2 separate regions of the Homo sapiens genome follow, and region 2 is linked to region 1. Evidence: fine-mapped expression QTL. A gene starts in region 1. The other region holds a variant in brackets. All regions are shown on one strand. Distances are from middle to middle. Region 1 holds the start of SGCB (sarcoglycan beta). Region 2 overlaps SPATA18 (spermatogenesis associated 18).

Evidence for each region.
Region 2: its variant is fine-mapped to the expression of SGCB in whole blood (INTERVAL, PIP above 0.99).

Annotation. Positions count from the first base shown.
Region 1 is chr4:52,033,966-52,046,915 of GRCh38, forward strand. It overlaps SGCB (sarcoglycan beta), which reads right to left and starts at 4,334. Exons shown (of 6, transcript NM_000232.5): 1 at 4,262-4,334. The coding sequence starts at 4,294. It overlaps LINC02480 (long intergenic non-protein coding RNA 2480), which reads left to right and starts at 10,840. Exons shown (of 3, transcript NR_147189.1): 1 at 10,840-11,070; 2 at 12,060-12,164; 3 at 12,714-12,950. RefSeq lists an enhancer at 3,747-3,866 and a silencer at 4,107-4,546.
Region 2 is chr4:52,051,700-52,068,150 of GRCh38, forward strand. It overlaps SPATA18 (spermatogenesis associated 18), which reads left to right. Exons shown (of 13, transcript NM_145263.4): 1 at 1-92; 2 at 8,720-8,825; 3 at 9,083-9,198; 4 at 10,521-10,633. The coding sequence starts at 6. Among named protein-coding and RNA genes, the nearest start is that of SPATA18, 8.6 kb to the left of the region's middle. RefSeq lists enhancers at 1-255, 48-397. The variant G/A (reference allele first, on the strand shown) is at 6,913.

The DNA.
Region 1 (12,950 bases):
AATTTTTTTACGTATACAACTGGCCCTCCATATCCATGGGATCCATATCCATGGATTTAACCACTGTGGATCAAAAATATTTGAGGCCAGGCGCGGTGGCTCAGGCCTGTAATCCCAGCACTTTGGGAGGCTGAGGCGGGTGGATCACGAGGTCAGGAGTTCAAGACCAGCCTGGCCAAGATGGTGAAACCCTGTCTCTACTAAAAACACAAGAAAATTAGCTGGGCATGGTGGCACGCACCTGTAATCCCAGCTACTCCGGAGGCTGAGGCAGGAGAATGGCGTGAACCCGGGAGGCGGAGCTTGCAGTGAGCCGAGATCCCGCCACTGCACTCCAGCCTGGGCGACAGAGCGAGACTCCGTCTCAAAAAAAAAAAAAAAAAAAAAAAAAAAAAAAAAAAAAAAAAAAAAGGGAATGGTTGCATTTGTACAGAACATGTACGACTTTTTCCTTGTCATTATTCCCTAAACAATACAGTATAACAACTGTTTACATAGTGTTTACATTGTGTTCAGTGTTGTAAGTAATCTGCAGATGGATTTAAAGTATACAGGAGGATGTGCAGAGGTTACATGCAAAAACTGCACCACTTTATATAAGGGACTTGAGCATCAATGGATTTGGCTATCCTTTGGGGGTCCTGAGACCAATCCCCCATAGATATTGAGGGACAACGGTATATATTTTCATTTATATGAAAATAAGACCGGAAAGGCTGACATAGTTTGTTACTTATAATTTCACTGACTAGAGCTCACATTACCCTAGATCAGTAGTTTTCAAATGCAGGGTGGGGAGTCCTGGGAGGGTTCCACAAACCCTTTGGGGGGCTGTATTTTTGAAATAACACTGAGATACTGTTTGCTGTTTTTACTCTCCTAGGCCCATGAATGTAAAGGCTACATGACCAATGTGATGGCATCATCACTCAACAGAATGTATGCTTGTATAGCCCTGTACTTTAAAAATTTCTCCATTTTAACTTCTCCTATAGTAAATATCAATGAATATAACCCACATAAACCAAAGCTCTTTGGAATCCTCCATTTTTTAAGAGTGTAAAGAGAACCTGAGACCAAAATGATTTGAGAACCTCTGACCTAGACTATGGTTGAATGACATTTTGGGTAATAATCTTGAATATCAAGAGCACAAAAGAAATGGGCAGAAATGGATACTGTCCTACTTATTTCTTAAAGCTCTGAGAAAATTCAGTTGTTGAATACGCATGTATTAAGCACTTTACGCTTAAACACTAATTCCATAGATAGGAATACAAAAGAACTATAGGAAAGGGTCCTTATCCTCTATGTATTAACAGATATGATTTGTGTACATGTTAACATAAAATATTTAACAATGCAATAAAGCACTCTGTATGTTCAGGTGCCAAAATCAATAGTCTAGGCAATACACACTGCAGAGTTCAAAGGGAGGAGAGACAGGATGACCTGGAGTTGTTAGGGAAATGGGGAGAAGTAGATGGGTCAGATATGGCAAGGCAGGGAAGAGGAAGTTGGAAAAGTAGGGCCAGGTTGTGAAGGTTCTTGGACAGCAGGGTACAAATTCTAGTCTTTATGTTCTATTTAATTGGGAGTCACTGGAGGTTTTTGAGCACAAATTCAGAGTGTTAAAGGTGTGGGCATTTGTACGAGAGAGAAGAAAGAGGAGTACCAGTAAGTAAGCTGCTGGGGATGTTGTAGTAATGGAGGATTGAGGTTAAGAGGACCTAAACTAAAGTGGGATGAAAAAGGAGAGATTAAGTAGATACTTTAAGAGAAGACTTAACAGAATTTGTAGTCAGGTTCCAAAAAAGAACCTCAGGCTTCTGACAGCCCTAACAGATGGGCAACTTAAAAGTGTTAGCCAAAGTTTGAATATAGGTCCACATAAAAGAGAGAAAGGACAAAATTCATCCCTCCTGAGACGTAGTCTTTACTCTTCTCTGCCAAACCATGCACATTACTGTCTTCATCTTGATGCATTTAACATTTATTGAATAGTTACTATAAGCCAGGTGCTCCAAGCTACCAGGATGAACATAGTGTCCACCCTCAAGGAGCTTAATTACAGGCCAGTCAGGTAGACAGACAAGGTGACTAACAGTTCACAAAGCATGACAAGTGCTGTAGTGGAGCAATGCATACAATACAGAAAGGGTACAGAAGAGGAATGCATCTCCACCTAGCAGGCAAGGGCATCAGGGAAAGTTTCTAAGAAAAGCTGAAGGTTGAGTTAACTCTTGAAGGATGGACAGGAGTTAACCAGGCAAAAGAGCTAAGAAGGTCACTCTAGGCAGAGGAAGAAGCATGGAGACTTTGAGAGGCAACCATCTCTGGGAGAACTAATTTTGGTCACTTTATGTGGATGGTGAGAAGGATAGGTGTAGGGATGAAGCAAGAAATACAATGAGAGATGTGCTTAGGGGCCAGTAAGCAACATAAATACCATGACAAGAACAATGGACTTTATCCTGAAGGCAAAGGGGAACTACTGAAGAGTTAAAATAGGTTTCCTATACAATCAGATTTGCATTGTAGTAAAATCACTCCAAAAAGAGATGAACTGGAACTGAAGAGCCTAGAAGTGAAGATATCAACAGCAGGTTTCTCTAAGAGTCCCAATGAGGTACTGACTGAGGTTTGACTTTGAAGCTGAAGTCTGGGGAAAGGTGTTAAGAGGTAGAACTGTCAGGATCTCGTGATTGTTTGGATATGAGTGTGGCACAAAGGGGTCGAAGATGACTCCCAAATAGGACTGGCTATATAATTTGTGGGGCCCAGGGGGAAAAGAAAATGTGGGGCTCACTGTTTAAATCTCAAGCCCAGGACAGCAGAACATTAAACCAAGTGCAGGTCCTTCTCAGCTCCCTTAAAATGGCCTTGGTCCTAAGTTTCTGGCTAGGTTAAACAAGTGAATGGATGGTTGTAGCCTTTTTAATAGTAAGTATGACAGAGTCCAGTTTTGAACATTTTTGAGTTTGAGGTGCCTATGGAAAATTCAGTTAAGTTCAGGGCTGGAGACGTAATGCGTAAATTTGAAGTGGAGACTGAGTAACGGATCAGACTGCCCCACTTATGTGTAAAGCAAAAATAGAACCAGATGGAAAAACAATCATCTGAAACAGAAGCTGATAACTTAGGCGGGAAATGAGGAAAGCCAAGGCACAATTTAAATACCAACTCCAAGAAGTTTTGTCTCCTTTCAGTTTCACTCATTCCTCTATGTTTTATTTTACTGTTACAAATCTGCAGCCTGCCTATTGTCTTTAGCTGATTTTTTCTGCATGTATTTGGCTGTATGACTTTAAGCTCCTTGAAGAGAGATTTTACGTCTTTTATCTTCAGAATGAGCCCTCCAGTGACATATATCTAATAGGTCTCTAAAAAGTTAATTATCTAAGAAAATCGTTCCAAAGGTCAAAACTTGACTCATTTTTTTCAACAATGTTTTAGAATGAGACTTTTTAAAGAGAAACTACTATAATTGTTCAAAGGAAAAGTAAGTTAGGTAAGGGGGAAAGTTACTGAAAATTATCTGTATTACAATAAATCACCCTAGCGATTACGTGTATGTATATATTAACACACACACATATGCATGTACATGTATGCATACGTATAACTAGATTTTGGGGGGATGAGGAGCCTTTTAAACCATTCTAAGTTACAAGTTTACAATGCAGGTCAGGAAATCTTGGATAAATCATTTTTAAAAGTGAACAGGAGATAGTTTTAGACTGGTGACTAAATCTTCAAAAACCAAAGCGTGAGGGGAAATCTGGGATGTCTGCATATTGGAGATGGCAGAAACAAAAAACAAAGATGGCAAGCTGACACCGGGGCAACAGCTGACCCGTTTCTTGTAAGAGGAGCCTTCTCGCTGGGGCTGCGGTTATTTTTATCCAAATCTCTGCTGGCGGCTGAACGGGGTACGTCCCTGGCACGTCCCAGCGCAGGCTTCCAGGCTGGCTCGACCGCCTCCCAGGCTCTCCGGAAGGAGACCCCTCCTCACCCCCTCCGAGGATCAGCCAGGCCGGGCCGAGCCCGAGGCCGCCCCTGGCTCCTGGTCCCTAGCTTGTGCCAGCATCCTCGGCGGGGCACAGCTCCTCCCGCCCCGCCCCGCCCCGATCGGCCCCGCCGAACCCAGACCCTGCGGCCCGCGCCCCCCGCACCCCCGGCCAGGGCTCCCGCGGGCCCAGCCGGCAGGACGCGGCCTCCCCCGCTCCTCCAGCCCGCGGCCGCGGCGGTACTCACAGACCTGTTCTGCAGCCGCCGCCGCCGCTGCCGCCATCTTCCCGCGCCCGCCGCCGCCGAGCTCCCCGCCCGACTGTGCCCGCCCCTCCGCGACCGCACCCTGCGCGCCTGCGCTTGCGCCCTGGCGGGGACTGGGGGCACCCGCTGCTCACACCCTCCCCTCCCCAGCCCGCATCCCTGACGACCCGCATCCCAGCCCTGCGGGCTCAGGCTCTGCGGCGGCCCCTGCACCTAGGACCTTGGCCTGGGGCGCGTTGTATTGCACAGGGGCCAGAAGGGGCCTATGGGGATTCCGCTCCACCCCGGGCCGCCTGCAGATTCCTCAGAAAGGGCACCCTCAAAAATCGAGGACGCTTCTCCCCTTCCCCTTTGTTCCCCATCGCTGAAAGATCGGTGCCATCCGGAGCTGTGAGGCTCTCTTTGTTTCTCGGACCAAGGTCTCCTTGGCTAGGGTGGGAGGGGCCGATATCGAGACCACAAGTGGACGCGGACCGGCGTGGTGACTGCGTGGGCAGAAGTGAACGAGTGGTCACTTAGGTGGCTGGAGTCTTGAAGACTGAGAGTCCTCAAGGAGGACGTTGAATCCTTCGGGCTGCTTGACTTCGGAGGCCTATGAAGTCTGATGTTTTTATCCTGCGATACTGGGGATGGATTTTTCATTTAGTGTTGGAGATAGTGTTACCATGTATATCCTCGGGAACCTAATTGAACGGACATTTACTGAACACCGGGAAGCCACTCAAATGTACGAGTTACTTGAGTAGACATTCATTGTTCCCTGTTGTAGATATAATCCAATAATTATTTTAGCTGAAAAAAAATGCAGTGAAGTCAATAGCAACTGTTCCTCATGTAGCTGAATCACTTCTAATAAGCACCTTTGGGCCCTAGTACTGTCTAATTCAGTGGGAGTCAGTACCTAGCTGGTCATCAGTCTCTCTGCATTTCTTTTTTCCTAAATGCTGGAACCACTTGACTCATATCTCTAGACTCACTCCTCTCTGAGTCTGTGGGACAAACATGCATTTTAGGCAGGAAAATTCTAAGTTAAAGCCCAATGATGCAGGAGTCAGCAGTAAGGCTCTGTGTTAATATTCTGCCTGTGGTCTCATTGATCAATTTGCACAACTGGGCTTTTAACTGATTCTGAGTTCCTATCTTCTAGTCCTTAATTCCTAAGCTTTGCGTTTTTCTCTCTGCTGGGAAAGTTCTTCTTCCCTGGCACGCGCACTCTTATTCATCCTTCAAGAACTATTCTATTCAAACGTCATATTTTCTCTAAAGGCTTCAGAGGCTCCCACAGATCTGTTCCTTAACTGTGTGCCTAGCCTTTTCTAGCACTTCAGATTGCATTGTATTTTTATCTTGTCTACCTGCTGATTTCATTCAAAAGATGGTGTGTTCTATCTGGAAGGTAGGTGTCTTACTCATCGTTTAATCTCCAATGTCTAGCACAGTAATTAAACTTAATAGATATCTTAGAAATCTGCCCAGTATCCCAATTTCTAAGCCCTGACTTGATTTTGCCAACCTCCCTCCCACTTAGGTGGTGAGATACCTGGTAGCCAATTTTCCTGAAACCAAATGCTCCTTTGGCTATTTGAATATCACCTTCTCTTGGATTCTTTCCTCATCGCTGATGTCCATCTCTGACAGGACATCCCACTATTCTTAATGCCAATTTCTATTCTCTTTTAAAGAGATCCAATTCACTCACATGACCACATTTTAATGTGGGTTATTTTCAAATGTACTATTGTCAGCCTTTTTTCCCCTGAAATAATGACATTTAAAGTCAACTCTGTGCCTGGCAATGCCTCTTTTACAAATGAAGAAATCAAGGCTTGTAGAGGTTAAATGGCTGACCATCTTTTCAACTCCTAAAGAGCCAGTATTGAATCTAGGTCCATCTGACTAGTCTTTGCTCTTTCTACCATACATCACAGCCTTTAATTTTGCTCTTTCTTTTGACTGTTGCATGATATTAGCATTTGGAAGCACAAAACACAGGTCCCCAGGGCTGGAGTATGAGTCAGATTATGAAGACACTTACACCTTTGTTCACTTTGCAGTGGTTTGAATAGTGCCCTGCAAAAAGGCATATCCAAGTCCTAACCTCCAGTATCTGTGAACGTGGTGTTACTTTGAAACAGAGTCTTTGCAGATTGCTATAGAATGAATGTTTGTGTCTCCCCTGAATATTTCACATGTGGAAATCTTAGCCCCCAGTGTGATGATATTAGGAGGTAGGGCCTTTAGAAGCTGACTTAGTCCACTTTGTGCTTCTATAACAGACCATCTGAGAGTGAAGAATTTATAAAGCACAAAAAATTATTTTCCCACAGTTCTGGAGGCTGAGAAGTCCAAGCAGGTTCAGTTGTCTGATGAGGGTCTGGTCTCTGTTTCCAGGATGTTACCTTGAACACCTTGTCATCCTGAGGGGAGGAATGCCAAGCCCCTATGACCTGAACAGCTCTCAAAAGGCAACACCACCCAATGCTGTTGCATTGGAGATTAAATTTCCGAACATGAATTTTTGGGGACACATTCACATCATAGAAGGAAATGATGGGTGATTAGCTATCACTATTCATGATTAGTTCTCATGAATAGGATTAGTGCCTTTATAAAATAGATCCAAGAGAATTGGTTTGTTTCTTCCACCATGTGAGGACACAGTGACATCTATGAATCAGGAAACAGGCCTTCACCAGACACTAAATCTCTAAGCATGTTGATCTTGGATGTCCCAACCTCCAAAACTGTGAGAAATAAAGCTCTGTTGTTTATAAGCCACCTAGTCCATATTCTGTTATAGCAGCCCAAATGAACTAAGACAGATGTTTTTAAGGATCTTGAGATCACTCTGAATTTAGGATGAGCCCTTATCCTTATAAGAGGACAGAATGGCAACATACACTAAGATGATATGAACATAGAAGCAGAGATTGGAGTGATCACTCTACTAGGCAAGGAATACCAATAATTGCCAACCGCTACCAGAAGCTAAGAAAGAGGGATGGAGCAGATATACGCTTAGAGCCTCCAGAAGGCTCTGATTTCTTACTTCTAACCTCTGGAACTGTAAGACAACAAATTTCTGTTGTTTAAAGCCACCAAGTTTGTGTGTTACAAATACACACTTCAAGTTCAACACATGAAAAATTTGAACTCAAAACCTTTCTTCCCAATCTGGTCCTCCTGTGTTCCCTTAGTGAATGATATCACCATCTAGTCAGACACCTCAAAGTAGTTCTATACTATTTCTGGAATGATCTTTCTAAAATACAAATCTGATCATGTCACTCCTCACCCTCAAGCTTACCATACTCCAATACCTTTCATGATAAAATTTAAGCTCCTTATATTTGGTCCTTCACCAAATTTTGGTCCTTCACCAAAAGGTTAGAAACTTTTGGTCCTTCTGCCCCTTTCTAGCCTTGTTTCCTGCCTGTCCCACACACACATCCAACGTGACTACAGAGGAGTCAGGGAATCAGAGACAAAGTAATCTATCCCTTTATCCCTGTGCAATATTTGCAGCCCCCATCTGCTTGCCCGAACTCAAGTTCTTAATGGCTCTGTTCCTTTGCATATGTGGCTCTTTCTCCTTTTAATCTAGCTGTCTCTACTTGTCCACTAAAACTCAGATCAAGGGATATCTTTTCTGAAAAGCCTTTCTTAAACCTTCTCCCAATCATACATTTCTGATTTGTGTGGACCTCTCTGTGATCCCCAAGCATGCTGCTATTGTCACATCACACTATACTGAAATTTATTTATTTGTCCATCTGTTTTAGTTATCTGTGAATTCATGCCTCTCCAGATTCTTCCCATTTTTCAGAACCAACCTCAGTCCTACCTCCTCCTGACAATCACAGCCAGTCCTTATTCCTCTTTCCTTTTAACTATTATTGCACTAATTTGCTGTAACACCCATTTGATACTTAGTGCAGTATCTTGTTACTTTACTTTTCATGCATATACAGTTTGCTTCTGATTAGACTGAGTTCCTTACAAAGCAGAGGTAATGTGTTATTATTTTCCATGTTGCTCTAAGTCCTGAACACATTAAGAACCAAGTATATAATACATACTTAATAGCTCTGATGAATATTAAATTAATTTTTTCTATTGGGTAAAAAATATTACTAGCATCTAAGTATCTCTGACATCGGTATCTAATGCTCACCATACCATACCCCAGAGAAGGCCACTAGACTAACCCTCATCTCTGTGTCTTCTAAGTGCTCTTTCAAGGGTCCAGTTCTGCCCCTTCCATACTTAACCTCTGTGACCTCCAATGTGATATAAAAGAGACCCAATCATACAGTTTTTCTATTTACAGCCCTTTGCTGCCTCCCCACTGCCTATGAAATAAAGATCAATTCCTTTAGCCTGATACATAAGACCCATCATAGTTGAAACCAGGACTATCTTTGCAGTCTTGTCTCTGATTCCCTGACTACTCTGTAGTCACATTGGACTACTATTTGTCATTTTCTGCCCCTCCATTCAATTTCATGCCTCTTTGCTATGATTCTTCCTGTTTCAAGTTGCTCTTCTCTTCCTGGTGAACGTCTCTCCATCCTTCCAAAACAGGCTCTAAACATTACCTTTCTATGACTTTCCCTGATCCTTTTTCAGAAGATGGGAAAGGAGGCAAAGGAGGAGTCATTGTTTCCGCAGAACGTTTATCTACTCTAACTGACAACATTGAAGTATGGTTGCTTTTCTCTTTCTTGAATAGATTATGAGATTCTAGGGAACAGAGACTGAGCTTAATTCTGTCCATGCTTAAGGCAGATGGTTGTGTCACACTAGAAATCCAGTAAATGTTTATTAAAAGTGCTGAAAAGGATCTATTTCAACATCACTCATCCTAGGGACTATCTCGTGCTATCCCATATCCCTCTCCTGATGTGCTTAAGGACATCTTGCAAGGTAGACCATATCCACTGTGTCTCTGCAATAGCTTGATATGTCCTGAGCTTACTCCTCCTCGGGGGATTTTCACAGAACCATGACCTTGCCATTGCATTTAGCTAGCAGAGCTGAAAAGATGGAGGGTGAGGACGCCTTCTTTTCTGAAAAACCTATGATGGAAACCTGGGTTGCGATAGGAAAAATATTTTGCAGCTCTCCAAAATCACACTACATCTACCTTGGGTTTTTTCTCCTTCTAATCTGTATTTGTTGCAAATGTTCTATAGTTTATTTAGGGGCTAAGGTGATACACTTGTGATATATTTAAAATTTCCTCTTGTTTTTATAGTTTAATCAATAGTGCACATGAAATAATTGTACAAAAAAATTCTGAACTGCTGCTCTGTGTGGGTAGTGCTCCTTGGTATGACACAGCAAACAGCATTCTTCCTTCTGTCAGTGGGGGAACCTGCCTCCCACTCAGTTCCCAATAAATTCATTTGTTCTCCAATGGGTGTTTTTTAGAAAATATTTTCCTTTCCCTTAATGTGGCAGAGAAAAGGACAAAACAGAACTCCTGAAAGGAGAATACAGAACACTCAGGTTAGAAAACACTTAAGTGGACAAAGAAGTGTTTTGCTACCTACAAGAACAAAGTGCCTCTGAGCACAAAGGGCCTAAGCAATACCTTGGATAAACATTGCATTTAAAGGCAACTTTATGCAAGTGGGTCAGCAAAGACTAAAAGATTTTCTTCAAATAGTAATACAGGCCCTGATCCAAAGACACAAGATCCAAACACAGACAGCAGAAGGAGAAGAATACCGTGGCTCAGCCAGGAAAGGATGAGGAGTGCTTAAAAGAGCATCCAAGCCAAACACAGGTTGTTCTTATCAGCCCCTGGCTAAGGGTTAGCAACTGTCCTTAGTGAAGAAGACTTGAAATTAAGATGAAAATCCTACTGCGTAATATAATCCCCTGTAATTTATTGCATATATTTATGTTTGGTGTAGTGTGAACTAAATATACATAGCTCTCACTTCAGCTCTCACTTCAGGCAGTGGATTCAGCTCATCTTTTGTTGGCTTCTTAAAATGCCCAATTAAAAATCTTTCAAGCTGACTGATGTAGGTAAAAATCCAGGGTAGACAAAATTAAAATCTATTCCAAGGCCGGGCATGGTGGCTCACGCCTGTAATCCCAGCACTTTGGGAGGACGAGGTGGGCGTATCACCTGAGGTCATGAGTTTGAAAGCAGCCTGACCAACATGGAGAAAGCCCGTTTCTACTAAAAATATAAAATTAGCCGGGCGTAGTGGTGCATGCCTGTAATCTCAGCTACTCGGGAGGCTGAGGCAGAAGAATTGCTTGAACTCGAGAGATGGAGGTTGAGGTGAGCCAAGATGATGCCATTGCACCCCAGCCTGGGTGACGAGAGTGAAACCCCGTCTCAAAAACAAACAAAAACCCTATTCCATCTACGTACTTGACACATTATCCTTTCTAGAACAAATCACTCCTGGCTAGGTAGTAGAATTATGACACCGTAAGAACCACGAATTGGCTGTTAAAATTGCCTTCTATCTCAGTGGATTATGACATCAGATACAAAGCAGCCAATCACATCCTTTCCTTTCCAATCTGTTTCCTTTTCCTTCCTCTCTTCCTCCTCCTGGCTCCCAACTTGTTTCTTCTTTCTTATGTGCCAGTTGCTGTGCTGAGGATATGAAGCTAAATAAGCCTCTCTCCTTTTCCTCATGAAGCTCAAAAGCTTAGATAGGAAGCAAATAAATATAATATAGCATGATAATTGCAAGAATATTAACATGTCCAAAAGTTAAAGAGAGAAAGCATAAAGAAGAAAGTGATGAGCTCTGAGGGGTTGAGGTAATTAGGAAAAGTTTATCAGTTTAAGCTGGGTTTAAATTTGTTAAAAGTGCAACTATAGAGAACTTCCTTGACTGGAGGTTAGAAATAGTAGTTATTCTAGCAAGCTGGCAGAATAAATTTTACTAAAAAAGGGAGCCCAACTTTTGGTGATTGGCTAATGCGCCCAAAATCAATGCTTGACCTAAGGTGAACTATGAACCAAAAATTGAAACAAAGATCAAGATTTGCTCAATCTTGAACCTAATCAGTATGGTAAAACAGTATTAAAGACTGTCAGAACTGCAGGGGATCTGGGAGCTCATCTATTCCATATTACTCATTTTATAGATGAAAAAAATGTCTCCAAGTGATTAAAGATTTATATGAAGTCATAAGAATTCACTAATTGGCAGAGTGTGAGATAAAGCAACAGTGTTTATGTTTTGAGTTTGCTGTTCTTTCAACTTCTCCCAAAATTGCTTAATTGGTAATGTCCTAAAATAATCAAATTAGGACAAAATTTGAGCATCAGAATATTCCCCAAAGAGAATCATTACTTATCGGATATTTTCTGTCATATGTGAAAAAAACGAGGCTTATCAACTTTTATTTATTTATTTATTTGAGACAGAGTCTCCTCACTCTGTCACTCAAGACAAGAGTGCAGTGGCGCCATCTTGGCTTACTGCAACCTCCGCCTCTTGGGTTCAAGTGATTCTCATGCCTCAGCCTCCCGAGTAGCTGGGACTACAGATGTGCACCACCTAATTTTTACATTTTTAGTAGAGACAGGGTTTTGCCATGTTGGCCAGGCTGGTTTCAAACTCCTGGCCTCAAGTAATATGCCTGTCTTGCCCTCTCAAAGTGCTGAGATTATAGGCGTGAGCCACCACTCCCGGCCAAGACTTATCAACTTTTAAAATAGAATCTCAGCCATATTGACTACATGCTTATAATTTAACACACATGGACTCTTTAATTAGCAATATAAACTATTTGCACTCTAGGCTTTTGCTCTCTCTTAAATTGATTGCTATTTAGCACCCATCAAAAGCTCTGCAGAGGGGACCATCATTAACGGCATTTACGAAGACATCCACTTATTCCAACAGGTATGCAAGTTCTAAGCTTGTATCAAATAACATCACCTGAGAACTAAAAATGGAGTGTCAATTACTTGGCCTGCTCTTTGATGAGCTGTTCTAGCGTTACTCCTTCAGCATTCATCAAAGGTGGTTTCACAAAACAATAATATCAAGATTTTTTCTACATATTTTTTAAAAAAATTTATTAAGAGATCTTTCATCTAGGTTGTCCAATACTCTTTGGAAATGAGCAAACACATTGTAGATTGGTACCAATAAAATATGTTTTCATTGAAACAGCTAGTATGTGTACTTTAAACATCAATCATTATCATAAAACTCATTTTCCTTTCTGCTTTGGCTTCCACTAAGCCCAGAAAAATAATATAAAATGACGCTCTTAGTACATGGGCGTACATTTTGGGCATATTTGCTTTTTCCTTTAAAAATATTACTAATCTGACAGTATTTTCAAGTGTCTTACTATAAGCCATCTCAGATCCTTTTTTGGAAGTACTAGGGTAGAGAGGGTAAATAATGAATAAACATGTGAAACATTTCCTTTATTTTGATCAGCAGGAGGAAGACCAACGCTTCTTATCATAAACACAAGTTCCTGCTATACACAACACATCCTTGAATTCTAGGGAAGCCAAGATGTACATGAAATGACTGCAGGTCTTAAAGGTCTTGAATCTAATTGTGGCACTGGGGCATATGTAGAGATAAATATCACGTAGCATATGCTAAGGTGATTTCGAAGATCTATTCTATCTTAAGACACTGTAAGTCTAATTATTAAATGAGCAATAC
Region 2 (16,451 bases), 19 kb after region 1:
GAGCGATGGCGGAAAACCTGAAAAGACTGGTCTCAAACGAAACTTTACGAACGTTGCAGGAAAAGCTAGACTTCTGGCTGAAGGAGTACAACGTGAGTCTGGGTGAAAAACCCCCGGGGTTCGCCCTCCCATAGGTTCCAGCACAGCCCTTGTCGGGGATTTCTTAGGGCTGGAGTTGGTGGCCACTTTGCAAAGCCTCCGCGGTTGCGATTCCTAACCAGGATCTCAGCTTTCGACCGGGATCGCTGGGGAAGGAAGGACATGTGTGTACATGCCCTTGTCTCAGAGCTTCGGGAGGCGGCGCGCAGGCGGCCTGCGGAGCGCAGCACTAGGCTGCGGAGACTGGAGAGTGCTTCCAATCAGTGGTAACTAAGGACGCCGGCGACCTAGCAATAGGGAAGCCCTGCTGTCCGCGGCTGGTCTGGTCATGCCTGCCACTCTTTCCCATCCCCCTTGCCAGCGCAATCCACACCGCCTGCTTCCCCAATCCCGAATTATTTTTTACTACAACCCTCTCCTGCCCAGGGTTTGTATCAGAATGGATTTGTATAAACACACACCCAGGAGTTATTTACCCAGAAATCAGCGAAACGGACACTTGTTAACGTTGCGGGTTTCACTTGCGTGCTGGTGGGCCTGGAAATTGAGGCACAGTTCCAACACCAGGGCGGATTCAGGCCTTTTTCCAGGCATTTGTGAGAAGCCAGTATTCTGTCACCAAACCCATGAGCACTTTTCAAATCTCATTAATCCCTACTCGCACCCTGCCTCCCCATAATTCCCCCCTTCCCCCAAATAGAACGGTGAGTGTTGAATTTGCTTTACATTCGGTCGGTCCGTCTTAAATAGGGATTTCCCCTCTTACATAATAAGTGGAGCGGCCAGGCAAAAGAACTGTGGACCGGAAATTAGCCCCCCCTTGTTTCTACATTTGGCTCTGCATAGAACTAGCTGAATGACGGAGTCAAATTATTTAACTTCTCTTGGTCTTAGTACCTCATCTGTGAAATAGCAGAGATTGGTCTAGATGATATGTAAATTTCCTGTTCAGATTTTAAGTTTTTGAGCCTAGATTAGCTTGTTTCTGAGATCCTGCCTGTTATGAGGTCCTTAGGCTTCCCCATTCACCCTTTAACCAGTGCTCCTGAAGTGGAGGGGAGCTCAAAGAGCAGCTACAGCTTTCTCCTTAGCCTTCCTTTCTAGTGCTTCCTGTTCAGTCCTTTGCTCCCTTTTAAAGAACAAGCGCTGACCATTCCTTCTCCATTAAGAATTCTGGAAAGTTAAAATGACCTCTTTATCATAAAAGACTTGGGTTCCCCCCAACTAATTTTAAAAGTACCTACTACTTAGTCTCAGGAGGTTGAGAATAAGAAATTCTAACATGTATACAGTATTTACCCCTTTTTTTTTGCCCAGTGGCCTAACTAAACTCTGAATTTTAAAAAAACATGTTGTTTGTCACAATGTTTATTACAAATAACACTAGGATTTGTCTGGAACTAATAAACAATTATTTTAGAAACTCCCTGTAAGTGATGAGAAGTGCCTTAGTTTATTACATTTTCCTGTCTTGATAACATCCCATTCTCTGCTCTCATTAAAACCATTTCCATCCAGCTGTTTTCCCTTCATCTCTCTACAGTAGAGGCTGCACTCACAGCCACCAGTGTTTTTCATACCTTGTGGCCACTCCCCAGGTTCCATCATTTCTCTTGAGTTTGCAGGCATCATTATCACATTGGAATGTTGACACCTGTATTCTTCCCCCTCCACTCCTGCTTCATCTGTTACAAGTATGCTGATGAATCTTATTTCTATAGGATGTGTTCCCATCTGAGCTCTCACTTCTCCAACTGCCCATTGGACATCTTTCAATAGTGAATGCTATTGAAATGCTCAGAATGCTCAAAGTCAAATCTGTCCAAAATGGAATTTAGCCTCTCCCATGCCCCAACCACAGGTCTCATTTTTCTAAGTCGTCTTCATCATTATATACTCCACTCCCTTTTCACCATCATAATCTGTTGGTTCTAACTTCAAAGTTCATACGGAATCTAAACACTTTTCACCACCCCCACTGCTACCACCCTTCTCCATCCTTGATCATCTTTCACCTGGATTATTACAAAAATAACAACCCAAAGAGATGCTTCTAAATGTCAAGTCAGATCAAGTTACTCTTTTTGCAAGACACTCCAAATTTCCTATTTCAGTCAGAAGAAGCCAAAGCTCCTACAGTGACCTTCAAAGTCCTACACAATTGTGCCCCTTTAAGCTCTTTAACCTTATCTGTTACTCTCTCCCTTGCTCAGCCCACTCCAGCAGTACCAGCTTTCTTGCTCGTCCTAGAGCAATGCTGTCCAATAGAACTTTCTATGATGATGGACAGGTTCTATATCTGCATTGTCCAATAAGGTGACTATTGGGCACTTGAAATGTGGCAAGTACACACTGAAGAACAGAATTTTTAATTTGACTTAAGTCCAATTTAAATTCAGATAGCCACATGCAGCTCATGGCTGCTGTCTCAGACAGCACAGTTCTAGAGATGTGGACATGCTTCTGCTTCAGGGCATTTGCACTCACTGTTTTCTCTGCCTGAAAAACTTTTCACCTGTTGATATTTGAGTGAGATAGTAACATCCTCACTTTCTTAGGAGAGCTTTATTTCTTAGAAAGGGTAGCAACCTGCAGGCTGGGAAGCAGGCCCCTGCTGAAACCAGAGGCAGGCACTTGGAGGTAGGAAAGGTAAGGCAGGAATTAATGATGAATGGGTTGGCCACATGTATACATATTCAACAGGTAATATTCACGAAGGGGGAACGCTCACAAGCATAGTAAGCAAACATGCATGTTACGTTCATCCTATATTCATTTTGGGGTAGAAGCTTAACATTTAAATGTATTACAATTAGGCCCTATACATCAAAGGTGGAGGCAGGGACATGAAGGAACTTAGTGTACAGCCTCTGTGGACCGGCCAGAACCAGCCTATGGTCCGTGATCTCTTATCAAGAGAAAGTTACTGAAATCAGTCTCTTATCCAGTTGAAGTTGCAGTTATGGACTGTGGAACGGGAGGGGATCAGTTAGTCAGAGTCTGGTGGTCAGTGAGTTGCAATTGTTTTAACATTGTTTATCTCGAGGCCAGTACTTGCTTAGCTACTAGATAAAAAGAAAAAACCTTTTGACAATTAGAACATGGTTGATTCTTTATGTGTAGGGGTATGTGACTTAATCCTTGCCTGGCATGACCTTAGGTCTTTATCTTATTGCTGTAAAGAGTCTGTTATATTAGTCTTAAGATCTCTATTTTAACAGTAGCTTCATGCAGTCCAGAAAATTTTGCCTGTAACAGAACTAGCAGTATTTTTGCAGCAATCATGGTAGCCAAAGGAGGCTCTTAGCCCATATTTGTGTGACAGGGGTTAGTGACTTTAAAAGAACATGTCTTTATGTTAATAATGTTGGTGGTTGTATTCCTGAATATTTTATTCTTTTCTATTAACTCTTGCTTTCCTGTCTGCACAAAGCCATTAGAATGTGTTTGAAGTTTACTTATTTCAGTTCTACACTTATAACGTGGAAACTTCTTATTCATTTCCCTGCCTTCATTCATGCCCACTTCCAATCCAACTTTGATACAGCTGTTTGAAGCATCATTTTTATGGCTCTCATTGCCAATACTAGTGATTCTCAACACAGGCAAGGCATTGTCCCCTAGAACATTGTTTTTAAAACTTACCTACAGGACTCAATGCATTTTACTTCACAATATAGCACACATAAACCCTTATACTTAAAAACTCAAGTTTCATTAATAATTCTTACCTTTACTCATTGTGGTGTGTTTCTCTATTTTCTTTTTAGTATTATTTGCTGTTTGAGACTCACTAAATTGGTTTTGTTACCCACTAATGCTGTGGTTATCAATCTTCATTGCATATAGGAATTGTCTAAAAAGCTTTTATGTTTCCAATGACCAGGCCCCACGCGAGAGCAATTAAATCAATTTCTAGGAGTGGGAGCCCACAAAGCTCCTCAGGCAAAGGCTTTCCTGAAACTTCGTGGCCCTTACCAGCTTCTCTTTTGAGTTTTACCTCTGAAATCTGGACCAATTTTTATTATAGTAAGTAGCATGTGTTTTTGCATTTATTTTCGTGTTTATCTTAGACTCTAAATTCCTCCAGGGCAGGAGACATTGTGTCCCTAGCATCTACTGCATAGTGGCGTCTCCATAAAATTTCTTGAGAGTATAAATGCATGAATAAACCATGCCCTTCTGCTTCTTGAAACCATCTGCTTCTTCGGCCTCCTTATTCTTCTTCATCTTGCTTCCTGGGTGTCCTCTCATTTCTGATTGCTCTTGTTTTGTTTTTTATTCACTGGCTCTTCTTACTCAGACCACTTCTGACATAGCAAAATTGCCCCTCATTCTGCCCTCAGCCCTCTCCTCACTCTTTCCTCTCCCTGGTAATCTCATCTGTGCATGTGGCTTCTGCACTCTCCCACTTGCTGAAGCCTCCCAAAGCCACACCTCCCAGTCCTGTCTCTCTTCTAAGCTCCAGACTTACTTTCCATCTGCTTTGGGGAAAGCATTGTGTTTGAGAGCTCAGCTCCAGTGCTGGAGGCTGCAGGAATGGGTCTCCACCATTGTCTCTTCAAATTACTTAATTTGTTTTTCCTCAGTGGTGAATTTTGGATGATGATGGCATCCCATTTGTAGGATTGTTCTGAGGATTAAATGGAGCCATGTATATAAAGCTCTTAGCACAGGGCCTGGCTGGCATATAGTAGGTGATCAGTAATTATTAGGTACCACTACTGGACATTCCATCCGAAGGTCCTGCAGGCCCCCTGACTTGTTCAAACCCAAACTCAGGATCATCCCTCTCATACCTCTTACTCATTTCTAAACTCTCTGACCTTCTTAGGTAATGCTGAAATCGGTGGGACCTTTACTGGCACAGGTGTAATTTGGGGCTGGGAAGGACCTTTGGGAGACCCTTAGTATGTCTATAGCCTCCAGCATCTCTCAGCTAGATGGTTATACCCATCTACCTCCCCACCAGACTCACCCTGTGACCCAAAGTCTATCTGGTCTGCTTTTGCCAGACAGATTTTTGTAACATGCAAAGCAAATATGAGCATGTCACACCCACCTTCCTCTGTTGCATCCTTAAACATTTTGATGATGGAATAAAGCCCAAGACCCTTAATGTGGCAAGTCAAGTCTTTCAGACTTGGTCTCTGGACCCTGTACTCACTTTCCGCTAATATGCCTTGGTGCCTTCTGTTCCTCCTCTTGAAATGCCCTTCCCTCTTACCCTTCACACCTCACCAGAGGTTATTTTTCTGCTCCTATAGCTTGTTATCCACACAGAGCACTTAATATAAACTCTAAGGTAATTATTTATCCCCTTGTTCTTATCTTGTTCTCCATCTCACTTCCCCATCTAATTAGTTCACTGACTGCAGGCAACTTTTTTTTTTTAATATAGCTTTGTTTCCTGAGCTTTGTTTCCAGGGCCTTACATATAATAGAAACTCAATGATTTATGAATGAATAAATCTGGAGAGTCTGTGCTTTGGAGACAGTATAATTAGTCCATATCTTTGCTCTGGTTGTCTTGTGTGGGTATGTAAGTATGTGTTTACTAGAATAATGTGACCCTATTGCAACTTGATTATCTTGTGCAATGCTTTGTGTTTAGAAGTTGCAGCATGTTGTAACATGTCTTGGGAAGGGGAACTGTGTGGCATAGGATATTCTCTCCTGTTATTTAAGATGTGTTTAAAAACTCATTTGACCACCATTCCTCTGGGTACCCAGTATGTACCAGGCACTGGGCAAGGCATAGGAATAGATAGTAATGATACCACAATAATACTTCTAATTATTGTGTACCTCTTTTATGCTAGACTCTGCTCATGAGATCAGCTACCTCCTAAACAGAGGGAAACAGAGCCTCATATTTAAATGTCTTTTCTAAGGGAATGCAGCTGATAAGTTGAGAACCAGATTTGAACAAAGGTCTGCCTTATTCCTAAGCCACTGGCTCCTTTCAATACTGCATGCTACCTCATAGGTGCCAATTGATGAACACCTTCTGTGTCTGAGGTGCTGGGCGTGTATTATTTTGATTTAATTCTAATGCTCCACAAGGCATTATTATCCCCATTGCATGGGAGAGGAATGGGCTCAGAGAAGTTAAGTAACTTGTGCAGGGTCACATAGAACTGTGGCAAGCAGCAGAGCTGAGATACTCAGGTTTGCTTGACTCCCAAGCTCATTCTCCGTCCACTTAGCACATGGAATGATCTAGCCAGAGGGCAAAAGGCTTGTAAGCAGGTAATTGAAGTTCAGTGTAATAAGTGCAGGTATAAAATGGCCAGGGCAAGGAGCTGCTGAATTAACGAGGAAGAAATGGAGATAGCTGTTCAGGCTATGGGTTTTAAATGCTCTATCATGTCAACATTACACTGTTAAATTATTCATTCATCAACGTTGTTTAGACCCTTCAATTTGCTAGGATACTAGTGGCAATAGATACAAACATGAGCAAAGCAATATCATTTTTAAAAAGAACTCATGATCTTTTTGGGAGGAGAGATTAGATGGATGAGATGGAGAAAAAATGGCTGCAGGAGAAATCAATGCTACAACAGAATTAGTCATCAGGTACCATTTACCAAGCATGGAAATTAACCCAGCTGCCCTCTCAGTTACAAGTCCATCCCATCCAAACTCCATGCCAGGTGCGAAAGGCTCTCCAGGTCAACTTGCCCTGCCAACCTCTAAATGTCCTTCTGTGCCTCTGCCACATTGACATATTCAAGGTTGCCAAACTTGTTCCTGTCACAGAACCTTTGTCCTTGCTGTTCCCACTGCCTGGTAAGCTCTTTCCCTAGT[G/A]GTGTGCTTCCCTGAATCTTATAACCCAGGAATACTCAAGGGTCCCCTCCACAGAGAAGCCTTCCCTGGATGCCCTCCCCATTCACTCTTGGTTGCATCATCCAGTCCTCCATGTACTCCCAGCAAGAATCATGATCTAAAAGTCAGTATAGTTTAGTAGTTAAGAGCATGGGCTCTGGAAGCTGGGCTGCTGGGGTCCAATCTCAGCTCTGATAATTTACTAGCTGGGTAGCCAAGAACCAGTTACTTAACCTCTCTGTGCCTCAGCTTTCTCATCTGAAATGGGAATGATAATAATAATTCTTCTAGCTCCTATTGTACTAGTGAGAGAATTAGCTGAGTTTATATATGTAAAGCACTAATAGAGCCTGGCATATAGGAGAGATATAATAAATACAAAGTGAGTGAATCATCTCATTTATATGCATCCATCCAATACACAATGATTCTGAATACAGGGGCACTGTAGAATGCAGGGGTGGGAATACAACAACCAACAGGACAGGCCCAGTCTCTGTCCTCAAGGAGCTTCTGCCTGTCTGAACCATTTCCTTGGTTGATGCAGATGTGCTTTTGACTTGTAAACTTTTGCCTAGAGATTATCTCAACTTTTCTCTTACTCCACTCCTAGTTTCTATCTGCCTTGTACGCTGTTTTCTGTTCTGGGATTTGTTGTGTCCAGGAGGCACCAAGGACCGATGCCTTATTGAGCCCTGAGGTGACACATAAATCGATGCATTTTTACAACCACATGATGTTTGTTGCTTGTAGTTGTATTCCTTCTTCTAATGTTGGAGTCAGTTAGAGATTTGGCTTATGTTGAAATGGTAGAATCTTTCAAAGGAATGAGGAAAGCAGAATAATAGCTAAAAGGTTCACTTCTTGGCCTCCTCATGTTTTGTTCTCATTGCTTAGAATGTTTCACAACCACTGGAACCACTTCCTTTTCCAAGTCTGGCTAATTTCACCTTGGACTAGATTTCACTTCCTCTTGGAAGCCTTCCCAGACTTTCCAAGACAATGGACTCTTGGGTAGAGCTTGCGCTCATCTGTGTAGGTAAGACTTATTATTCCGCTGCAGAGTAACTGGCTATTCATCTGTCTGCCCCACGAGTCTGCAAGTGCCAAGTCCCTTATATCCTCAACCCAGCAATACCTTCTTGCTGTTAAGAAGTAATGTTCTCTATGCATATATAATATATACAAATTGAATTTATGTAGAGGACAGGAACCAATAAAGCAGGTAAATTCGGCAGTCATTTGTATTGTCTTATAACAGGTCTATTTACTTTTTAAATGTATTTTTGTAGGGTTTTACTGAGTAGGATTATTGCTATAAAAAACAACCTCCAAATCTCAGTGGCTTACACACAAACCAACTTTCTCAACCATGTGACAATTCAGTGCAAGCATTCAGTCAGCAGCCTTGCAAATCTTGTGGCTCCACCATCCCTTATGCCCTCAGCATCCTCTCTTGGCTCTTCTGCATTCAGTTGGCAGAAGGGAAAAGAAAAAAAAGTCATTCAAGAGGTTCTCTTCTGGGCCAGGCCCCAGGCATATATCACTTCCCATCCAGTTAACCAGAATTCAGTTACATGGCCACACGAACTGCTAGGGAAACTGTGAAATGTGGTCTAGTTTTGTGTCCAGGAGGAAAGGGAGATAGGTTTTGGTGACTACACAGCAGTCCTGCCACAAAAGCATACCAGAGCCAGGCAGCTCGTGGGTCAAGTGAGGCCCTGGTCTGTCTGCAGTGGGTCCCAGAGTGAAGTAATTACCCTGGTTATCTACTGTTTTGCCCTTGCAGACAAACACGTGTGATCAAAATCTAAACCATTGCCTTGAACTCATTGAGCAAGTTGCCAAGGTGCAGGGACAACTCTTTGGGATCCTCACAGCAGCAGCCCAAGAAGGTGAGAATGGCCTGTAATTTCCCATCCAGTTCTGCTTGCCTTTCTCTCTTTTCTTGGTGCTTTTTTGTGTTCTTTGACTGTTGGTGTGGTTGGGTTTCTCTCACTGACCTGATGACCTGATGTGTGTATTCTCTCTTTTTTTTTTAATTATACTTTAAGTTTTAGGGTACATGTACACAACGTGCAGGTTAGTTACATATGTATACATGTGCCATGTTGGTGTGCTGCACCCATTAACTCGTCATTTAACATTTTAGGAGGACGTAATGATGGTGTGGAAACAATCAAGTCACGCCTTTTGCCTTGGCTGGAGGCTTCCTTTACTGCTGCTTCCCTGGGAAAATCTGTTGACAGCAAGGTCCCCTCTCTGCAGGTAGGGATGCTGAAGGATAACCCTTGACTTTCTGAACAGTGAGATAAAACGAATCAGAAACCTCCAAGAGAAGAAGAGGACTTGATTTTGGTAGACTGATAGAGTGTCACAATTTGTGATGGATATTGGTGGTTTCCATGGGACGGTGTTAGTTTTTGAACAGGTAGAGATCAGACTAGAAAGAGCGCACATACCTTGCTTAAGGCATCCACATCATTACATCTGGGCAACCAAAACATTAGTTACTTTACTTTGAAACATTTATATGGATTTACCTATAATCCTTTCTAAAACAGAAGCATTTAGAAAGCATTTAGTCTGTTCTGAGAAAACCAAACATCACATGTTCTCACTCATAAGTGGGAGCTGAACAATGAGAATACATGGACACAGGGAGGGGAACAACACAGCAGGGCCTGTTGGGGGATTGCAGGGGTGAGGGGAGAGAGAGCGTTAGGACAAATAGCTAATGCATGTGGGGCTTAAAACCTAGGTGACAGGTTGATAGGTGCAGCAAACCACCATGGCACACGTATACCTATGTAAAAAACCTGCACATTGTGCATGTGTATCCCAGAACCTAAAGTAAAAATAATAATAATAATAATAATAATAATAATAATAACAGAAAGAAAGCATTTAGTCTGTTCTGAGCAAGAGCATTATAAGATAGTGGCTGAAGGATCCCTGCTTGGAGATCACTGAGCAGAAAACCAGTCCCTCTTTTATGGCCCTGGGTAGGTATCTAAACATTTATGTCTCAATTTTCTTATTTGCTGAATGGAGACAATGGTTTTGCTGATCTAAAAGGTTCATTTGTGAGAATTAAATGTGATAAGCACACTAAACAAGTTACACAGGGCCTGACACATGTTAAGTACTTTATAGACTTCAGTTATCATTAAGTAATTTTTTTTCCCTGAGAATTTATGGACGCTTCTCAGGTTTTTATCCTCTGTGTGGGTGTTATTCTAGGTATAAAGATGTAGAATTTCAAACTGTTTTTGGAAATTGAGGTATAATTTATATTCAGTGAAATCCATAGATTGCTATTTCAGCAAATGCATATACCTGTGTAAATTCCCATCCCTATTGGGATATCAGACATCTCCATCACTCTAGAGCATTTCTTGCACCTTCCCCAGGGCAACCATCTTCTGATTTTTATCACTCTAGATTAATTTTGCCTGTACTAGAACTTCATGTGCATGGAGCCGTGCATAATTGTGCTCTTTTGAGTTGGGCTGTTTTTTAAAAATTCATCCATGTCATTTAATGTATTCAGACTGTTTTTTTTTTTTTTTTTTGGTGTATCTTTCCAGGACACGTTTGATAGGGAGAGACATAAAGATCCCAGTCCTCGGGATCGGGATATGCAACAGTTAGACTCTAATTTGAACTCAACCCGGAGTCAATGCAACCAGGTTCAAGACGAGTAAGAGGAATGCAAGTTATCTTTTTCCAAAAAGAATTGTTTTCAATTTAATTAAGTTTTAAATTCGAAAGGAGAATAATGGCTCATGTAAAATGTGGGCATTTGCAAATAAGTAATATGATTGTGTGTGTGTCTGTGGGCATGTGTGTATGACAGAGAGAGAGGGAGAGAGAGACAGAGAGAGAGAGTCAGTGGTCAGTGTCTGTGGATTTGGGGACAGGATATATTATGATACATGGTCCCCTGGTTCCTTCTTTGGAGTTCCTTCTTCATAGGCACATCATCAGCCTATATTGACAAACAGGTAAAGATTGTTAGACAAAAATCTACCTATTGGGAGAAAAATTTTTAAAAAGATGTGAAAGGGAAAGAATAAAAGAGAGTGAACAATCAGGCAAAGAGGAGAATTAAGAGAAAGACAGCAAAAGTCAAATGAAGCAGGCTGCATCTATCAGTCCATTATACTCATTTAGGGGTGTATGTGTGCTTCTCTGAATCTGAGAGAGTCAGAGTCTTTTAAGAAAGGAAGAATTCAAGATTTTGCAATATCTATTAGGTATAAGAATGTATTTTTTAAAAGTTAAGCAATTCCAGGCAACAACACATATCAGATGCATGTTGTGGGCAGAGCCAGGGTAGCAAGCTTAGGGAATCACTGCAAAGAAAATTGTATGTGGACTTTGGGTTTGTACTTGAGGCAGGTAGACAAATATGTATGAAACTGTGTTTGACATACCTAACAAAAATCCATCAATGGGAATTTCTCCTACCACAGCATTGCTTCATTGCTGACATAAATGGGACAGAAAGGAAATCTTTTTTTAAAAAAAATTAATAACTAGTTAAGGCTAGGATGGAATAATGTGTGGTGCTCTGCCTTGTTCCCTGATGACATTTCCATTTTTCTAAGGAAGAAATCTCTATTGATTTAGTTTTGCCTGATTATAAAAGTAATACAAATTTCTTTCTCAAAATGCATACAACAAATAAAAATTGATGAAAATCACTTGTTTTCTTGTCCCCATTAACATTTTGGTATATTTTACTCCAGACATTTTTCTTTGTGCCTGCACCTCCACACATATCCATTCATATTTCCAACTGGAATCATAATCAATGAGCAGTTATATACCTGAAGCAGTCAAAATTTATAAATGTAACATGCAAAAAGCATAAAATATATAATTTATTTCAACCAATGTGAGCTCATTTTGAAGGATTCTTCAATAAGCCACTTCAAGGTCACACAGTCATTTTTGGTTTATCGTAGTCCATTTTCTGTAAACATTCAGCTCATTCCAAGTGCAAACATGCATTAAGAGCTATTTTTGCCCTCTCATGGGGTCTCCCTTCCCCTCATCCTTTCTAGGGAAGGGATGCTTGTATACTCTCCTGGTGACGGACATGAGGAGTTTTTGGTCTTATACTGCCCTCTGGGTTCTTGCTGGCCTTAATTTCATGTAGGCACTAGTGTCTCGTGCTGATGGGTCCTGAGTTGTGCATGTCTTGTCTGGGGAGGTATCCTGGGACATTAGCTAGCAACGGCTGCAGATGACCCTCCATTTTCCTCTAGTTGTGAGGAAGGGCATCAAAACTTTACTGGTTCTTGATGGCTGTCAGCACCAGTAGGGGCCAGGGTTTCCCACTTCTCTTTCTTGTTTCAGTGACACTGTTGTTACCTATAAGGGGTACCATAGATCAAGAAACTTAATGCATGCTTTAAAAAAACTTTTCATTTGAAAATAATTTCAAACACAGCAAATCTGCTAGAATAGCGCTAAACATTTCCATATGCCCTTTCATATGCCTTTTGCCCTATATGCTTTATCACGTATGTGTTCCTTCTCTTTCTATATATATATATATATATATTCTCTCCACCAACCATTTGGAAGTTGCATACATGAAGATGCTTGCTGCTTTTCCCTGGTTTTCTTAGTTTCTATTTTTATGTTATTTCAATAGATTTTGGAGAACAAGTGGTATTTGGTTACATGGATAAATTGTTTGGTGGTGATTTCTGAGATTTTGGTGCACCTGTCACCTGAGCGGTATACACTATAGCCAATATGTAGTCTTTTATCCCTCACCCTCCTCCTTCCTTTCCCTCCAAGTCCCCAAAGTCCATTATATCATTCTTAAGCCTTTGCATCCTCATAGCTTAACTCCCACTTATAAGTGAGAACCATATGGTATTTGGTTTTCCATTCCTGAGTTACTTCACTTAGAATAATGGCCTCCAGCTCCATCCAAGTTGCTGCAAAGGCCATTATTTCATTTCATTGTATGGCTGAGCAGTATTCCATGGTGTATATATACCACATTTTCTTTATCCACTCCTTGGTTGATGGGCACTTAGGTTGGTTCCATATCTCTGCAATTGCGATTTGTACTGCTATAAACATACATGTGCATGTGTCCTTTTCATAAGATGGCTTCTTTTTCTTTGGGCAGGTATGCAGTAGTGGGATTGCTGGATCAAATTGTAGTTCTACTTTTAGTTAAGGAATCTCCACATTGTTTTCAATAGTGGTTGTACTAGTTTACATTCCTACCAGCTGCATAAAAGTGTTCCCTTTTCTCCACATTTACTCCAACATCTATTGTTTTTTGATTTTTTAGTTATGACAATTCTTGCAGGAGTAAGATGGTATTGCATTGTGATTTTAAATTGCATTTCCCTGATAATTAGTGATGCTGAGCATTTTTTTCATATGTGTATTGGCTGTTTGTGTATCTTCTTTTGAGAATTGTCCATTCATGTCCTTTGCCCACTTTTTAATGGTTTTTTTTCTTGCTGATTTTTTTTTGCGTTCCTTGTAGATTCTGGATATTAGTTCTTTGTCAAATGCATAGTTTGTGAATATTTTCTCCCATTCTGTGGGTTGTCTGTTTACTCCGCTGAGCAGAAGTTTATTTTTGTTTCTTTGTTTCTTCTGCTGTGCAGAAGCTTCTTAGTTTAATTAGGTCCCATTTTATTTATTTTGGTTTTTGTTGCATTTGCTTTTGGGTTCTTAGGCATGAATTCTTTGCCTAAACCAATATCTAAAAGAGTTTCTGGTGTTATCTTCTAGACTGTTTGTGGTTTCAGCTCTTAGATATAAGTCTTTGATCCATCTTGAGTTGATTTTTGCATAAGGTGAGAGGTGAGGATCCAGTTTCATCCTTCTACATGTGGTTTGCCAGTTTTCCCAACACCGTTTGTTGAATAGGGTGTCCTTTCTCCACTTTGTTTAGTTTTAACTCACCTGTAGTTCTTATTCTGTTTTTAAATTTAAGGTATCACTAAAAGAATTTGTTCTCCACATTCTATGGTAGCCAGCTCTCTCTTCCCTCCCTTACTTTGCCTACTTGTCTCTTAAGCCAGGGTGCTGCCCACGATGGAATGAATGGGCCACCCAAGGAGGTTCCCTATGTCTAACCTTGTAGAGACTGCTTTGGTTCTGACTTAGTTCCAAAATGCAAATTCCAATAATTATGGGCAAATGGCCACAAGTCTGCACAGGTTTGATGAACCCCCAAGCAAGGGAAGATTTTTAGATTTTATGCCTGGATTCTGGTTATGAATCTTGCTTTTCCTCCTCTCCTATATCCAATCTATCAGAATGTCCAATTGAATCTATCGCCTAAACTTTCACACTTGCCCCTTTCTTTCTATTCCGCCACCCCTGCCCTGGTTCAATCCTCTGACATCTCTTTCCTGAACCAATTGCCTTCCTTCTGACTGGCTTCCCCACTTCCATTCTTGGTCAACCACCATCCGTTTTCCACTTAGCAAATATGTATATGTTTTATTGTATCAAGTCATCCTTCTTTTTTGTTTTTGTTTTTGTTTTGAGACAGAGTCTCGCTCTGTCACCCAGGCTGGGGTGCAGTGGTGCGATCTCGGCTCACTGCAAGCTATGCCTCCTGGGTTCATGCCATTCTCCTGCCTCAGCCTCCTGAATAGCTGGGATTACAGGCACCCGCCACCATGCCTGGCTAATTTTTTGTATTTTTAGTAGAGATGGTGTTTCACCATGTTAGCCAGGATGGTCTCGATCTCCTGACCTCATGATCCGCCCACCTCAGCCTCCCAAAGTGCTGGGATTACAGGCGTGAGCCACGGCGCCCAGCCATATCAAATCATCCTTCTGATTAAAAGCCGTTAGTCTCCTCCTTTTAAAAATATTATATTTTATTTTAAGTTCCGGGATACACGTGCAGGATGTGCAGGTTTGTTATATAGGTAAACGTGTACCATGGTGGTTTGCTGCACAGATTAACTCATCACCTAGATATTAAGCCCCACATGCATTAGCTATTTATCCTGATGCTCTCCCTTCCCCCAACCCCCAACAGAGCCCAGTGTGTATTGTTCCCCTCCCTGTGTCCCTGTGTTCCCGTTGTTCAGCTCCCACTTATGAGTGAGAACATGTGGTGTTTGGTTTTCTGTTCCTGCGTTAGTTTGCTGAAGATAATGGCTTCTAGCTTCATCCATCTCCATGCAAAGGACATAATCTTATTCCTTTTTTGGCTGCATAGCATTCCATGGTGCATATGTACCACATTTTCTTTATTCAGTCCATCATTGATGGGCATTTGGGCTGATTCCATGTCTTTGCTATTGTGAATAGTGCTACAGTAAACATACATGTGCATGTATCAATAATAGAATTATTTATATTCCCTTGGGTATATACCCAGTAATGGGATTGCTGGGTCAAATGGTATTTCGGTTCTAGATCCTTGAGGAATCACCACACTGTGTTTCACAATGGTTGAACTAATTTATATTTCCACTAACAGTGTGAAAAAGTTCCTATTTCTTTGCAGCCTCGCCAGCATCTGTTGTTTCTTGACTTTTTAATAATCGCCATTCTGACTAGCATGAGATGGTATCTCATTGTGGCTTTGATTTGCATTTCTCTAATAATCAGTGATGTTGAACTTGTTTTTATATGTTTGTGGGTCACATAAATGTCTTCTCTTGAGAAGTGTTTGTTCATGTTCTTTGCCCATTTTTTGATGGGGTTGTTTGTTTTTTTCTTTTAAGTTTGTTTAAGTATTCTCTTCCCTTTATACTTAGAAAAAATTCTAAATTTCTCACCAGGGCTCTCATAACACCCCTCCTGATCTGGCTGTATTTCTGCTCCAGTGTCATCTCCTGTCACTTTCCCCTGACCCAGTCTACTGTCTACTTCCTCACTTTGAGGCTTTTGCCTGTGCTCTTCCATTGCCTGAAAGAACTTTTCAGTCTTCCACTGGCTCTTTGCATGCCTGGCTCTTTATTATCCTCCAAGTCTCAGCTTAAATGTGCCTTTCTCAGAGTCCTTCTGTGACCACCATACGTTGAAAGGTCTTTCTTCTCTCCTTTAATACTCTTCCATGGTGATCTGCTTTTCTCATAATAGCACTTATGAGAAAAGTTAGAGAGTGAAGTCACAACTGGGAACTTAAAAAAATAAACTTGCTTGCATATTTATGATCTATCTCCCCAACTAGCCTGGAAGATCCAAAGGGTTACTGTCTTGCATTGCTGAATTGACACTGTTGTATCCCCAGTACTGAGCATCATGCCTGGCTCATAGTAAGTCCTCAATAATCTGCTCAATGAATGATCAGATATGCAACAAAACATTTAAATAGAACGTCAGCCTGATTAAAACAATTGTTAGCATATGGATGTACTTTTCTTTCTTCTTTCTTTATGTCATCCAAGCGTGTGAAATTAGCATGTATGTTTGCTTATATGTGCATCCGCTTGTATGTGTTAGGAGAAAAATACCCAAGTTCTTCATTCCTGCTTGTATTTTCCTCCTTTTCTTGATCCATTTTC